Linked DNA regions of Homo sapiens. The protein of the gene in region 2 interacts with the protein of the main gene of each other region in a pairwise test. Each region holds a gene or a part of one and is shown on either strand. Other genes may lie near its edges.

Evidence for each region. The genes of interacting proteins can lie anywhere in the genome.
Region 1: the proteins of ZNF572 (region 2) and NEFL interact in binary tests that used the Homo sapiens proteins (3 or more experiments, as listed by UniProt).

Annotation. Positions count from the first base shown.
Region 1 is NC_000008.11:24,953,613-24,961,158, forward strand, and holds the start of NEFL (neurofilament light polypeptide), read right to left. Parts: upstream 3,001-7,546; 5' UTR 2,904-3,000; coding exon 1,860-2,903; intron 694-1,859; coding exon 569-693; intron 256-568; exon of another isoform or gene 184-255; coding exon 1-183. UniProt on the Homo sapiens protein: Neurofilaments usually contain three intermediate filament proteins: NEFL, NEFM, and NEFH which are involved in the maintenance of neuronal caliber.
Region 2 is NC_000008.11:124,968,888-124,976,355, reverse strand, and holds the start of ZNF572 (zinc finger protein 572), read right to left. Parts: upstream 3,062-7,468; 5' UTR 2,940-3,061; intron 751-2,939; 5' UTR 716-750; coding exon 637-715; intron 9-636; coding exon 1-8. UniProt on the Homo sapiens protein: May be involved in transcriptional regulation.

The DNA.
Region 1 (7,546 bases), about 100 Mb from region 2:
TGCTCCTCTTGGACATGGCTGGTGTAGTAGGACGGGAAGGAGCGGGTGGACATCAGATAGGAGCTGGTCTGTAAACCGCCGTAGGCAGATCGGCCAAAGACCTGGGAGCTCTGGGAGTAGCCACTGGTTATGCTTCCCACGCTGGTGAAACTGAGTCGGGTCTCCTCGCCTTCCAAGAGTTTCCTGGGGATGCAGATGCAAGGTGAGGTTAAAAAACACCTGTGTTTCACAACTTGCTCTGAGTACCCTAAACACAAAGGCAAGCAGGAGCAGGGCTGGGATTTATCAATACTTAATGCCTGGGGATCTTTTGATGGAGACCAGAAAAAATATAAATAAATCATCCTATTAGATTTAAAGTGTAATGACAAGATAAAAACAGGACTCCTAATTACAGGGTTAAATTCTTATATATCTAAATACCCTCTTCTTGGAAGAAGCCAAAAACTAACACTTCATTATTTCAAAAGGACTATTATTGAAGGTTTCTGATCCAACATAACTTTAAATGGGATCTGATTTTCTTCCTAAGGTTTAATGGCTGCTGTCTTTGCCCCTCTATTTTCACCTGTAAGCTGCAATCTCAATATCCAAAGCCATCTTCACGTTGAGGAGGTCTTGGTATTCTTTTAGGTATCGTGCCATTTCACTCTTTGTGGTCCTCAATTCATTTTCTAATTTGTTGATCGTGTCCTGTTTGAAGACAAAAATAAAACAAAAAAAAAATCCGAGCATAAATCCCTTCTATTATTTTACTGTAGTGTAGTTGCAAAGGCCTAGTTTCGATTAAAATCAAGGTGCACACCTTTGATAAAATCTCTCCTAGAATAACTTCCTGTATCTTTTGAAAAACCTTCATGCCTAAAATACCCAAGTTCATGAAGCCTGAGATGAAAAAAAAGATGGACGAAAATTCTGTTCTTCTGTTTCTTTACTTAATACTGTTTAATGATCATCATAAAATGCATGCAAACAGACTAAGTTGATAGAAAAACTGTGTCTCTCATTCACTGATTAACTCTTCTTTAGCTGGGTTACATGCCAGGAAACTAATGCCTTTCTTTATGAGAAGAAAATAGCCAGATGTAAACAAAAAAAAGAAAAAAATTATTTTCTATGAAATATTTCCTATGTATCTAAATTATTTTTTCTACTCCCCAGAAGAAGAAAAAAATTTCTACTCCCCAGAAGATGGAGATGTTTTAAAATGGAGATCTTTTTAAAATTGTATTTTTTCTACTCCCCAGAAGATGGAGATGTTTAAACAGAAATGTTGTAGAAGATTTTACACATAAAGAAAAAAAGAAAAAAAAAAGGTAAAAGGAAATGGTTTACTATGAACATCACTAGTTAACTACCTAAAACAATGTTGACTATTTTCCTGTCTACCTACTAAATAAAGGAAGGGAGTGGTTGGTAAAACTAGTCATAAAGCATGCTGGTCACAGTAATCCTTCAGAATTAATTGAGAGTTGTTCACTCTACTATTTATTAACTAGATGATCCGATAGTTGCTGCAAAGTAACTTGTGGTTAATGCAGGTCAGTAGAGAGCTGATCTCACTGCAGGCCGGAGGCAACGCCCAATTCCCACGTCTTCCCCTCCCCCACCCAACAAGGGCTGGGCAGCTTTAATGCGGAACGCCGGTGCAGCAGCACGGAGCACACTCCCAGACTACAGTGGCGCCCGCACTCACGCCCTTCAAGTGCCCCACCCCTCCCACACAGTGGCCAAGGAGCCAAGCCCTATCCCTAAGAGCTGCGTGCAGCCGCACCACCCCTGGTCTCCACTTTCTGGGCGCACCAACTCCCCCCCTTGCTCGAGTCCCCCGCCCCCCTGTGTTTCTGGCCGTGCCGCACCTGCATAGCGCTGATGTCGGCGTTCTGCTTGTCCTCCAGCTCCTGCAGCTGCTTCTCCAGCGCTTCATTCATGCCCCGGCATGCTTCGATTTCCAGGGTCTTGGCCTTGAGCAGACGACGGCTCTCGGACACCTCGTCCTTGGCGGCGCGCACGGCGTCGGTGTTCTTGGCGGCGCTCTCGGTCAGCACGGTGAAGCGGCTCTTGAACCATTCCTCAGCGTTCTGCATGTTCTTGGCGGCCAGCTTCTCGTACTGCGCGCGGATGTCCTTGAGCGCGGCGGAAAGGTCGGGCTTGGTCACGTCCATCTCCACGGAGATCTGCGCGTACTGGATCTGCGCCTGCAGTTCGGCGATCTCCTCTTCGTGCACTTTCTTCAGAAAAGAGATTTCGTCCATCAAGCTGTCGATGCGCTTCTCGAGCTCGGCGCGAGCGAGCGCCGCCTCGTCGGCGCCTTTGCGCGCTTCCATCAGCCGGCCCTCGGCGTCCTCGCGGCTCAGCACCTCCTCTTCATAGCGCGCCTGCAGGTTGCGCAGGGTCTCCTCCAGCCCTTCGCGCTCGCCCTGGAGCGCCTGCTTCTCGTTGGTGGCATCTTCCGCCGCCAGGCGCAGGTCGCGGATCTCCTGCTCGTACAGCGCCCGGAAGCGGGATGGCTCGGAGTGCTTCTGGCGCAGCACCAGCAGCTCGGCTTCCAGGACCTTGTTCTGCTGCTCCAGCTCGTGCACGCGCTCGATGAAGCTGGCGAAGCGGTCATTGAGGTCCTGGAGCTGCGCCTTCTCCTGCGTGCGGATGGACTTGAGGTCGTTGCTGATGGCGGCTACCTGGCTCAGGTCGAGGTTCTCCAGACTGGGCATCAACGATCCAGAGCTGGAGGAGTAGCTGCGGCGCACGGACAGCGAGGAAGACACCGGCGCCGAGTAGCTGGAGTAAGCTGAGCGTGCGGTGCTGTAGCCGCTGCGCACGCTGGAGATGTGCACCCGGGGCGTCTCCACGTAGCGCCGCTTGTAGGAGGTCGAGTAGTACGGCTCGTAGCTGAAGGAACTCATGGTGGCGGCCGGTGGCTCCCCGGCCCGCGGCGGCGGTGGGAGCCCGGAGAGAGAGGACAGGGGAGAGAGGGAAGGGGGAGGATGGATGGCTGTGTGCGGCTCGGCGCCGTTCTGCCACCCCTATTTATACGCCGGGAGGCTCCTGACGCAGCCTGCGATCGATCACGGCACGCCGGCCAGTGGGGGCAGCGCGCTGCTGCAGCCAAGGCGAGGATTCTGCGCAAAAGGGAAGGCGGGGTCGAGCTACGGCCCGAGGAGCTGCGGCGGTCGTCCTTTCCACTTTGCTCAGAGGGCCCTGATTTTCTCTGAGATCCCATGCCCCCTCACTCATTTCCCTTCTGTACTCACTCACGCAGCCCCTCCCGTCCTGCATTGCCCAGACCCCGTGACACTTGGATCCTTAAGTTGCCCCCAAAACAGGTTCTTGCTCCCTTTTGACACCCTAGTTTTCTGTATCCCGTCACCTCGCAGACACCCTGTCCCCCCAACTCGCCCTTTTCCCACCAGGAACCTCCTTAATTTTTTCCCTTGGTGTTTACGGTGATGGTGCGGCTAGGGAATTTTAGATACAAATAAATAGGCTAGGTTATGTGTATGCAGTATGTATGGAGAAGAGTTTTAATTTCTTTCTAGCTTTCTGGCACTTTCTGCAATTCATCTTCCTTTCTCCTGATTATTTTTCTTTTTCTTTAATGAGCTGCTTAACACATAGGGAATGTGCGCGCGAGTGCGCGCGCGCGCGCGCACACACACACACACACACACACACACTCGTGAAACTGCGGCACTACTGCAGGTATTGGTTTAGCATTTTTAAACCTTTACAGCAGTTAATCCGCCTGTTAGTGTTTCTAGATTTTCACATTTCTTAACTGAGAATGAAGCCGCAGATGGCTTTAACGTGTTGCAGTGTGTGGGTGGTGGAGGGCAGAGAAAGAGTTGGAAACACAGAGACTGACTTGCTGAGGCAGCCGCGCGCTCCGCAGCCGGGAGCTTCAAGCTGCCTGGATCCTCACCAAGCTAAATTCCTGCTTGCTACCACCAACCGCAGCACATTTAAAGTCCGCTTTCCTCTTTTTACACATGTGTAGCACACGACCTGATGATTTCGATAAGCCTTGCAGTTGGCTGATTTTCAGGGAAGCCGCTGCGGCCAGCCCTGAGCGCTGGGTGTGGTCTCTGGGGAGGAGAACTCGGCACCCAGGCTTCTTCAGGAACGGATAGAAAATAGCCATAGCCGCGTGACTCTTCCCCCGATACAATGTAATAACCCGAAAACAGATGCAGTCAGGAATGCATGGATTTCCTTCAGGAAGCACCCAGATGCTTGAAACTGGCGCACGCGGTAGCGCACGTGGATACAACCCTACGGTTTGCAGGGCATTTTCACACGCATGATGTTAGGAGTCCCCCAGGTTTCATGGAGGGATTGCAGAGATTTACACGAAACACCTAAGATTTATCTGAGCAAGCATTTAGTTTTTGTTTTATTTGTATATCGCAGCATTTGATGTGCAACTTATGTTTTTTTTAAGAGGCAAACTGAGGGGGAATATGGTAACTGTTTTCAAATAGAGAAGCCGGAATGGCTTCCCCTGTGATACTTGGAGGGTGAAGTATTTGCAGTGGTGCAGTTGCTTCTGGAGACATTTCACTCCTCTCCCGAGGAAAGGATGGGGTGAGGCTTATCCTCAGAGGCCCTTTCTCATCCCCCCCCCCAAAAAAAATACCTGTGATTGTGATAGCCCACCGTCCTCATGATAGACTGCAGCAGATAACTTTCCTCGGGTTTCTAAACAATGTCTGTTGTCGCAAATAATGCAAATTCACAAATATTGAAATTAGTAGTTTAAATCTATCAAGACTAAGTGATCTCAGAGGACCATCCATGCCCAAATATTCTAGATTTCAAGCCTAAGGTCATGAGGCTGTCCTGAATATTGTTTGTCCCTGGCAGGTTTGGTAGGGTACTTACTCTGTTGACTTTTCATAGCCTAGCTATCCTTGGTCTTTTCACTCATGAAATTCAAGGGTGGAATAGGCTTCTCTGGAGGCGGAGGGTGGAACAAGGACCCAGATAAGCCATAGAGTTGTCTCCTCCCAATTACCCATATGTAGATGAAGCATGGCAGAATGGATTATTTTGTTAACCTGCTCCCTGCAAACCTCATTGTTCCACACTCAGTGTGTGTGAGTCTGCATAAAACACACTCTCAGGTATTTATGAATTCGTTTCCTTTGTGCCAGCTGTCTTTCCCCGGAGTTTCAGGTCACCCTCAGATCTTAAGTCCATCAGCGTTTTTTTTCTTTCTTTCTTTCTTTTTTTTTTTTTTTTTTTTTCTTTTTTTCCGCGGCTCCTCCCTGAAGCCTTTGACTGCAGAGGAGGCTGCCCAGAAAGGAGAGGGGCGGCGGGTGCTGCAGAGGGATGCTTCAGAGAGAAGAAACCATTGGGGCACCTGCTGCCTGCCGTCCCCTGGGTAGCTGGAAAAAAGAGGAACACAGGAGCAAAGGGTGAGAATGGGACCCTTTCCTGTGCTGAACCCGGCCCACAGAGTGGGGGAAGGGGCAGATCCACAGCGTTTAGGCTTATCGATCTCTGGTCTTTTTAAATATCTCCTGGCCTGGCCACCTCATACTCCACGACAGCCTTGCTTTGCAGGACTCCCGAATCCAGCCGGGGTCTGAGTTTTGGTTACTCTATCTTCAGCCTTCCTCTGCCAGGTGCCTGCCTCTTCTTTAATATTCTGTCCAGTCATCCTCCTTTTTGAATCCTCTTTCCAGCATTTTGCTCTAAAAGCACACATGGCATTGCTTTGTGTGGCAAAGCAAAGTGAACAACTTTAGAAAACCTATTTAGGTAGAATATATATATTGACTTTTTCTTTCCCTCACCATAAATGTTTCTGATTAGTGCTGTTTGTAGTAGAGTCGCAGTCTCTTTAGAAGGAGGCTTTTGAGTCTTGTCACACCCTTATGCATTTATTCCCCTTTAAACATATTCTCTGCAAACCTGAACTTGGTTGAGGGCTATCAACAAAACATGCTCCTGGGAGATTAAAAATATGGAAGTATGTTGATGACCCCTTTAACAGAATTCCTACCACTCTGGTTATCCCTAATACTTCTGTAACCCTCCAAAGAACTGTCCCAGGTCATTTAGTTAAAAAGCAAATATCTTCACAGTAATAATAATAAAAAAAACATAAGGCATAACTCTTAGAACCACTGAAAACATTCTACTTCTCCAGTGCCAGCAGAGCCTGAAAGTTTCAGATAGATGGGACCTGGCGACTGATGACTTTTCATTTTATTATTCTAAAGCCATCTGAGAAAGCAGGAAGTTCTGTATTGGCATGTGTTTTTGAAAAGGTCAGCTTTAGGGTAGGGCCCATGAAAAGCCTCAGTCCAAGAGTCAAAAAAGTCAAGTTCTCCTACCACCAATAAGCTCTGGCAGAAGTCCTAGGACAGAACAGCGGATGAGTCGGCCGGGCGCAGTGGCTCATGCCTGTAATCCCAGCACTTGGGGAGGTCGAGGCGGGTAGATCACAAGGTCAGGAGTTCGAGACCAGCCTGGCCAATATGGTGAAAACCCGTCTCTACTAAAAATACAAAAAAATTAGCCAGGTGTGGTGGCACATGCCTTCAATCCCAGCTACTCAGGAGACTGAGGCAGGAGAACTGCTTGAATCTGGGAGGCGGGGTTGCAGTGAGCTGAGATCGCGCCACTGCACTCCAGCCTGGGTGACAGAGTGAGACTGCATCTCAAAAAAAAAAAAAGAAGAAAGAAAAGAAAAAGAACAGCCGATCAGCAGATGAGTCTCCATCCATCTCACCACCAGGTAGATACATCAGTGTCACCAAAGCTGGCATCGGTACGTGGATGCAAGGAAACCCAGTAAATAAATGCATGCAAGATACCTGCTATATGACAGGCATTTGCTATCTTGTATTGAATAATGACAAGATCACCTGGAGATGGTCACTATTATTCAGAGCAAACAGCTGAGGCCCAGAGAAGTAAGTAATTTGCCAACTCACACAGCTCCTTCAAACCTAAGCTCCACCTGCTTCCAGACTGAGGGTTCTACTCATTCCACAAACTGCAGCCATTGGCATTTACTGCTTCCTTATGTCTCTGTGGAATTTGATAAGCGAAGTCTGCCATCTGCAGAGTTTAGCGTGCATATAATAAACCTATCCTGCTTTGGGGACACCAATTTGAATTCTTCTGCACCATGAGGAAACCATTAACGAGCATGCTCCATTTGGGCAGCTAGTGGCAGCAAAAAACTACATGATTGTTGTAGGTTTCTCAAATATCCCAATGTAAAATAAAATGGGTGTGGCCAGTGGAACATGACACATAACTGGCACTGTAACATTTTACATGCAACTCTAAACATCAATTTACAAAACACCCTTTCAGGAATTAATAAGCTAAAATGCAAATTAGCTGACCTAACTCTTTAAAATGGCCACATCACGACTTCCACTTTTTTTTTTTTTCTGATTACAGTATCTTCATTTTCCACCCTTGTAAATGGGTTTTCTTTGGAAACGTGCCCTTAAAAGTTGCTCTAAGGAATAAAAGAAAAAAATGCTGGCACTGAACACCTCATTATTGGAGTTTATAATGCTTTCTG
Region 2 (7,468 bases):
TGTATCTCCTGCAAGAATAAACAAATATTCTAACCATATTCCAAATCTCTGCCAGAGAAGTAAATTCTAAATTGCAGTGGAAGAGAGGAAATAACACTGTAAAACCTCATAAATAATTTCATATAAAAAAGTTTTTAAAGACAGTTTTACTTCTTTTCCTCTGTTTACCAGAAGCAGGTGGATTTTTTTTTGTACCTAGCAACAACAATAATGAATTATTTGAATCATTATTGGCAAAGGGAACATCAATCTAAAAATAAATGCATTAGGTTTTGTTCTAGAAGACTTAAGAGAAAAAACAGGATTGATGTGAATAGAAGTTAAATTGAACAGGATACCATCTCAGGTAAAAACTAGACAATAGCTTTGCTAAAATCTGAGCAAATGCTATAGAAATAACAATAGCCACTATTTATTAAGAACAGTAGCTTTGGATACGGTATCTCACTAATTCTAAAATATATGTGAAATAGATATTATTCATTTTCTTAAAGATGAGAACAATGAGGCTGAAATAATTAACACAGCTTATAAGTGACAGAACAAGGAATTAAATTAAGGTTTGTCTCATTCTAGTGTCCTGTTCTTTCTACATCAAATTTCCTAAGGATTCAGATCATCGTCTTGATCCCTCACCTGTGAAAGGGCTTTTCAAACTCTCCCTCTCCATAAAGCTGTTAGAATCTGAGACCAACAGTTTTTTTTCTTGCTCCATCACAATGATCACAGCCAAGTTAGAGATCAGAAACCCTGTGGAAGGAAATAAATTATGTTTGGAGGTATTTGTTAAAGCTTATTCTTCCTCCTTCCTTCCCAACCATTCCAACACAACAATAGGAGGCATAGAATGTTCCATGAACCATACCGAAAATAAGAAACACAACTTTTAGCAGCCCTTTTAGAAAATCTTATCTCAGATCTAAGTGTTTAGAATTAAGGGTTAACCCTGAAATAACAATGCAAAAAAGTAAATCTTCACATTAAAGGTCTGAGGATCAAGCTTCAAAGACAGAATACTAATCCTCATTGTCCACACGTAGCTTAGAAACACTTTTACTTTAAAAAGCAAAGTATTTTTTTTAAGACACCAATAATAAAACTTATAAAGACTTCAAGGAATCAATATGAAGGCATAAGCAGCAGCTAAAGAAAAAAAGCACCCTGTTTAGTTTCAAAAGAATAACTTGGTCTTGACAGAAGGAAACCTTTGAAGTCAATTTCAAAGGAAAGTTAGGATTTATATAACCAGTAAAGAGAAATTAGGACAAAGCCGAGGTGGAATAATTATAGCCAATAACCCTGCAATATAAAAAGGAGGCTAAAGAGGGACCTCTTCCTCCTTGCACTTAGTTCCTAAGTCTATCATATTCACAATATCCATTTCAGCCTAAACTTCGTCTTCTGGAGCCAACAATCACTAACCTATTTTAAGGGACTAGAAAATGTTCCATCCTGGCTAATGCGGTGAAACCCCATCTCTACTAAAAATACAAAAAATTAGCCGGGTGTGGTGGCGGGCGCCTGTGGTCCCAGCTACTCAGGGGGCTGAGGCAGGAGAATCGCTTGAACCCAGGAGGCAGAGGTTGCAGTGAGCCGAGATCGTGCCATTGCACCACTCCAGCCTGGGTGACAGAGCAAGACTCTGTCTCAACAAAAAAAAAGAAAAAAGAAAAAGAAAAAGAAGAAAATGTGATCTATCACAGGAAGGCAGTGACATATGGACTTTTGGCATCCATTTCAGAATATAAAGAGTATCATTATTTGGGAGAAAAATAAGGACGTAAAAGGATATACAAATGCACACATTTTAAAAACAAAAAATAGTATATGTACTTATATTGTATCTTCACCATTACTGCCTATTATGTGCCAGGTAGTGAATGAAATAATTTGCACACATTTGTCATTTAATTCTTACAGTAGCCCTCTGAAGTGTATGAACAACTACCAGCATTTTATAGGATGAGTTTGAAAGGTATTAAGAAACTTTCCTAAGGTCACCTAGAAAGTGGTAGAGCAGGACTGAGCTCCAAGTCTGTTTGGATGCTGACCTTTTTCACCCTCTGATCTATTATCGTAAACTAGAACAGGAAGCAGAGCTGGGCATAATCCCAAACTGCAAAGAATCCTCAGAGTCCCTTTATTTTAGAATATTTAGAATACTGGCATTTTAAAACAGAGGTCTACATTCCTAAACCTTGTTAACAAAGTGAGTCGACATTCCCTAAGCACACTCAGCAAGTGGGGATTTGTTCTAGAGAAACGTGAAACTAGTCTACATTACTAATATCCCCAGTGTTTGAGTTGGGGGGGAGAAAAAACCATACACCTGAATGCAAAAAAAGGAAGGGGGTGGAGTTGTTCGAATGGAGTTATATATTTTGCTGTCCTAAGTTACATATTGTTATCAAAGTATTTACAAAAGCAGCAAGAGTCTGGGCAACACATTACCATCTCCCCCATTTTCCCTACTAAAATACTATTAAATTTGGCAGCAAAGGAGCCCCCGGAACAGTGGCTCAGCAAAATGGTGGCAAATGCAAGACCATACAAGGCTGCCATTAAGATGTCTCTCCACGGGGAAGGAGTGTTTTCACTGTTCTAGAGCAACAATGTGATCAGAGTGGGGCCGTGCTTTGATCAGAAAGCCTTCAAAGAAAATGCACTGCCTGAAGCCTAGTTTTAAGAACCGCTGGCTGGTACAAGTTGGAGACGCTGGGGGGTGAAGTTCCAGGATACCAGACGGTCTCCGGCCGACAAGATCCCGTAAGGGACCCCGCGGACAAGGATGACGGTGGCCCGTCGGCGGGAGATGCTGGGCCTTCGCCCCTGGCAGCAGCGGGAACTCTCTCCCGGACGTCCACTGCAGCCTGGACGGGGCTGTTTCCACTCCTCTAGCCCGCAACCCTCGGCTCCCTTCCCCCCAAGAAGGAACTCACTGTTCTGGGTGCTACACCCAAGGCGCCCTGCACCCCCAGCGGTCCGGGAGGAAGGTACCCCCTCTCCCTCTGACCCCACCAACCCAGGGTCCTAAACTCTCAAACCCGGAAGGCAGAAACAGGAAGTTACCCTCATCTCCCCCGGCGGCTTTGCTGGGGCCGTTCTAGGAAACAGTGATGGCCCACTCTCGTTGATCTTAACCCTTAGGGTCCTGGACCAGAAGGAGCGTGGGGGTGGATTTCCTTTCCCTGTGCTGTGACCAGCCAACTGTGAACCTCATTTCTCTCACTTGTCAGGCGGCTTACGACAGGGGCCTGATTGGAGCTTATACTTTTCCTTGCCATCAGAATATCATCAGATTAATTATCATCACTATTAGAATCAAAATCAATCTAGTATTTTTCTTTTTTGAGACGGAGTCTCGCTGTTGCCTAGGCTGGAGTGCAGTGGCGCGATCTCGGCTCACTGCAAGCTCCGCCTCCTGGGTTCACGCCATCCTCCTGTCTCAGCCTCTCGAGTAGCTGGGACTACAGGTGCCTGCCACCATGCCCGGCTAATTTTTATATTTTTCGTAGAGACGGGGTTTCACCGGGTTAGCCAGGATGGTCTCGATCTCCTGACCTCGTGATCCGCCCACCTCGGCCTCCCAAAGTGCTGGGATTACAGGCGTGAGCCACCGCGCCCGGCCTCAATCTAGTATTTTTAAACACCTATTGTTTCTGTTCCCACCGCTATGAACATGGATATATATTTACTTACCTGTGAAAGTTAGAAAGCTAAGGCATCCATTCACATATAAAACAATTCGTTTACAAGGCACCCTTATTAACACCTAGAAAAGTAGTTAATCCCTCCTCTTTCATTACAGAGAAAATAGAAGCCAATCCCTTCATCTCACCTCTACCAAACAGAAATCTACTCAAGTCTGCACCCTGCCGTTTTCTTTCTTCCCTCCTGTTACAATACAGAGTCCCTCTGTGACCTTTTTTTTTTTTTTTTTTTTTTTTGTGATGGAGTTTCACTGTGTCACCAGTCTGGAGTGCAATGGCAGGATTTCGGCTCACTGCAACCTCTGCCTCCCGGGTTCAAGCAATTCTCCTGCCTCAGCCTCCCAAGTAGCTAGGACTACAGGTGTGCGCCACCATGCCCAGCTAATTTTTGCATTTTTAGTAGAGACTGGGTTTCACCATGTTGGCCAGGATGGTCTTGATCTCTTGACCTCATGATCTGCCCGCCTCAGCCTCCCAAAGTGCTGGGCTCTTTGGTATTTTAATAAGCCCTTTACTGGTACTCACTTTCCTACCTATCTTCTTGGAAACTTCGCACTACCAACTAAACTCTCCATCCCTCCACCCCCATCCCCAAATAGTCCCTCAGCTTTTCTTTTCTCTTTTTACTCACAATGTTTCCATTTCATCAATTTTCCACTAACCTTAACATTTCTCCTGCAACAACAACAACAAAAAAATCACTAGCATCACCAATGACCTCCATGATGTTAGTTAGTGCAACTGGTATTTTTAGTTCTCGGGTCCTTTTTCAGGAGGTTTGATATGGCTACGGACTCGTCTTCTAGAAACACTCTTTTGAGGTGACATCACATTCTCCTCCTTTTCTTCCAACATCTCTAGTCAGTCCTGTTAGTCTCTTTTCCAAGTCAGTCCCTCAAGATCATCCTCTCCTCTTATCACTGAATGTTCTCTGCCTAGGCAATCTCATCCACTCCCACATTTTCAAATACCACCTAGGCAGACAACTCAAAAATTTACTTCTCCAGCCCAAGCTACATGTCTGAGCTCTTCACTCATAACCAATGGTCTATTTGGCATCTCATACAGGAAGTCTCAATAACACCTCAAAACCAAAATGTCAAAAATCAAAATCATAATCTGTCTTCTCTCTCACTGTTCTTCTCCATATACACATATAAACACAAAATAAAACAAAATAAACCTGTTTCTCTTCCAATATTCTTTCAACCATCCATCCAGTTATATGGAAACCCAGAAGCCCTTCTTTTCACTTCCCTTTCCTTACCTTCCATATACAATTCATAAATAAGCCTCATCTGTTGTGTAATAAATAATTCTCACCTGTAGTTGTTTCTTCTAACCACCAGGGTCACCTCTAATTCAAGCAACCATCACCCCCCATTTGAAGGATTTCCATACCCTCCTAACAGTCCCATAGATACCCATCCTTGCTCCCTCTCATTCACTCTTCCCTGTTGAATCCAGAGGGATCTTTTCCAAAAATGAACCTGATTCTTCCATGTTCCTTTGCCTAATTGAAGCTTACTCATCCTTCAGATTTCAGCTTACACATCACTTTCTCACAGAAGCTTTCAAGGCTCTTCTACATGCTCTTCTCCTACCATATCTTTTTTTCCATTTTAGCCCATGTCATGACTGCAGCTTTGTGTGATTGATGCATTATTTTGCCTCTCCATCCAGATAGCAAGCTCCATGAGAACAAGGCCTGCCTCCACTTTTGCTTGTAATTCTATCTTACAACTTAGCACAGTGCCTGACTCCTTCATTCATTCATTCAACAAATATTTGTTGAAAGCCTACTATGTGCCTGTTACTGTGTTATCCTAGACACTGAGGATACACCAGGGAACCAAACAATGTGAGGGAGATCATAAATGAACATCAACAAAAAGTAAACAAAGAAATGTATGTTAAGCAGTGATGAGTATTAGAAAAAGAAGTAAAGGAAGTTAAAGGAAGTGTACTATTTCAGGTAAGGTGATCAGGGAAGTCCTCTCAGTAGGCAGATATTTCAGCAGAAGTATGAAGGAAGAAAGTCGTGGGCCTCATTGTTATTTAAGGGAGGAACAATTAAGACAGGAACAGTAAGAAAAAGGACTCTGAGATGGAAACTCAAGAAACAATAAGGAGCAGAGCAAGTGAAGTGAACAGTACTTGGAGGTAAGGTCAGAGAAGTTTCAAGAGGTTAGATCATAATCATATAGGCCGTAAGTGACAGACACAGAGATGAATCACTCAGAATCCAAGGAAGTACATGTTGCCCACCTTTGAGAGTGCTGTGAACAGAAAGCTTTCAGCTGTTAGCTCCCTCAGGGAGTGCTTCAGTTTCAGAGAATAGCCTTTCTGGAGCTCATGCCCTTTCCAAGGCAGCCCACGTCTGGGGACTGATCAAGGCAGAAATATAAAAGGCTGTCCATGTTGTCCAAAGCAGGATAACTCTTAAATGCACTATTTCAGCTCCTGAGTGTTGTTTGTTTGTTTGTTTTTTAAGACAGTCTTACTCTGTCACCCAGGCTGGAATGCAGTGGCACAATCACGGCTTACTGCAGCCTCGACTGCCCAGGTTCTAGCAATCCTCCCATCTCAGCCTCTTAAGTAACTGGGACTAAAGTCACGTGCCACAATGCCTTGCTAATTTTTTAATTTTTTTTGTAGAGAGGGGGGTCTCACTTTGTTTCCCAGGCTGATGTGAACCCCTGGGCTCAAGCAATCCTCCTGCCTTTGCCTCCCAAAGTGTTGGGATTACAGGTGTGAGCCACAGTGCCCAGCCAACTCCTGAGTTCTTGATGGCCTTGATGGAGGAATGTGTTGTCAGGCCCAAATTGTAGGTCTTCCCCCTCTGCTCAATCCTGATTCCTTTCTCACCCTTCCACAGGTTTGGATACCAAGGCCATTTCCTAATCAACACCCTGGACACTAAACTCAGTCTCAGAATCTGCTTTCTCAACAAACAAGCAAATGAACAAAAACCTCCAAAATACATACATAAAATGAAATGTCCTCTCTCATCCCTGCCCCCAGCTATCCAGTTCTTCTCACCACTGGGGCAACCAACGTTGTATGTTTCTTGTGTATTATTCACAGATAATGCCATATGTGAGCAAATACCTACCTACCTGCTTATATACATATGTATATATACACATATATAGGTAATGAATAAAGATAGATGACATATATTCATACATTTCTTTTGCTACACATATAGTAAACTATTCACTTTGTTCTAAATTTTAGTTTTTTCACTTAACAACATGGAGAGTTTTCTTTTCTTCTCTCTTTTTTTTTTTTAATTTCTGAGGCAGGATCTCACTCTGTCCCCCAAGCTAGAGTCCAGTGGCATGATCTCAGCTCACTGCAACCTCAACCTCCAGGGCTCAAGCAATCCTCCCACCTCAGCCTCCCAAGTATGTGGGACCACAGGTGTGTGCTACCACTCTCAGCTCCAAGCTAATTTTGGGTTTTGGTTTTTTTGTTGTTTTTGTTTTGTTTTGCTTCGTTTTTTGTAGAGACAGGGTCTTACTATGTTGCCCAGGCTGATCTCCAACTCCTGGGCTCAAGCAATCCACCTGCTTCAGCCTCCCAAAGTGCTGGGATTACAGTCATGAGCCACTGCACCCAACCGAGAGTTTTTTATAATAGTACAGACATTTATCATAGAGCTCCCAGTATTCTTTTTTTTAACAGTTGCATGATATTCCATTGGGTAAATATAACAGTATTTATTTAACCTGTTTTTTATATTGCTTCTGAAC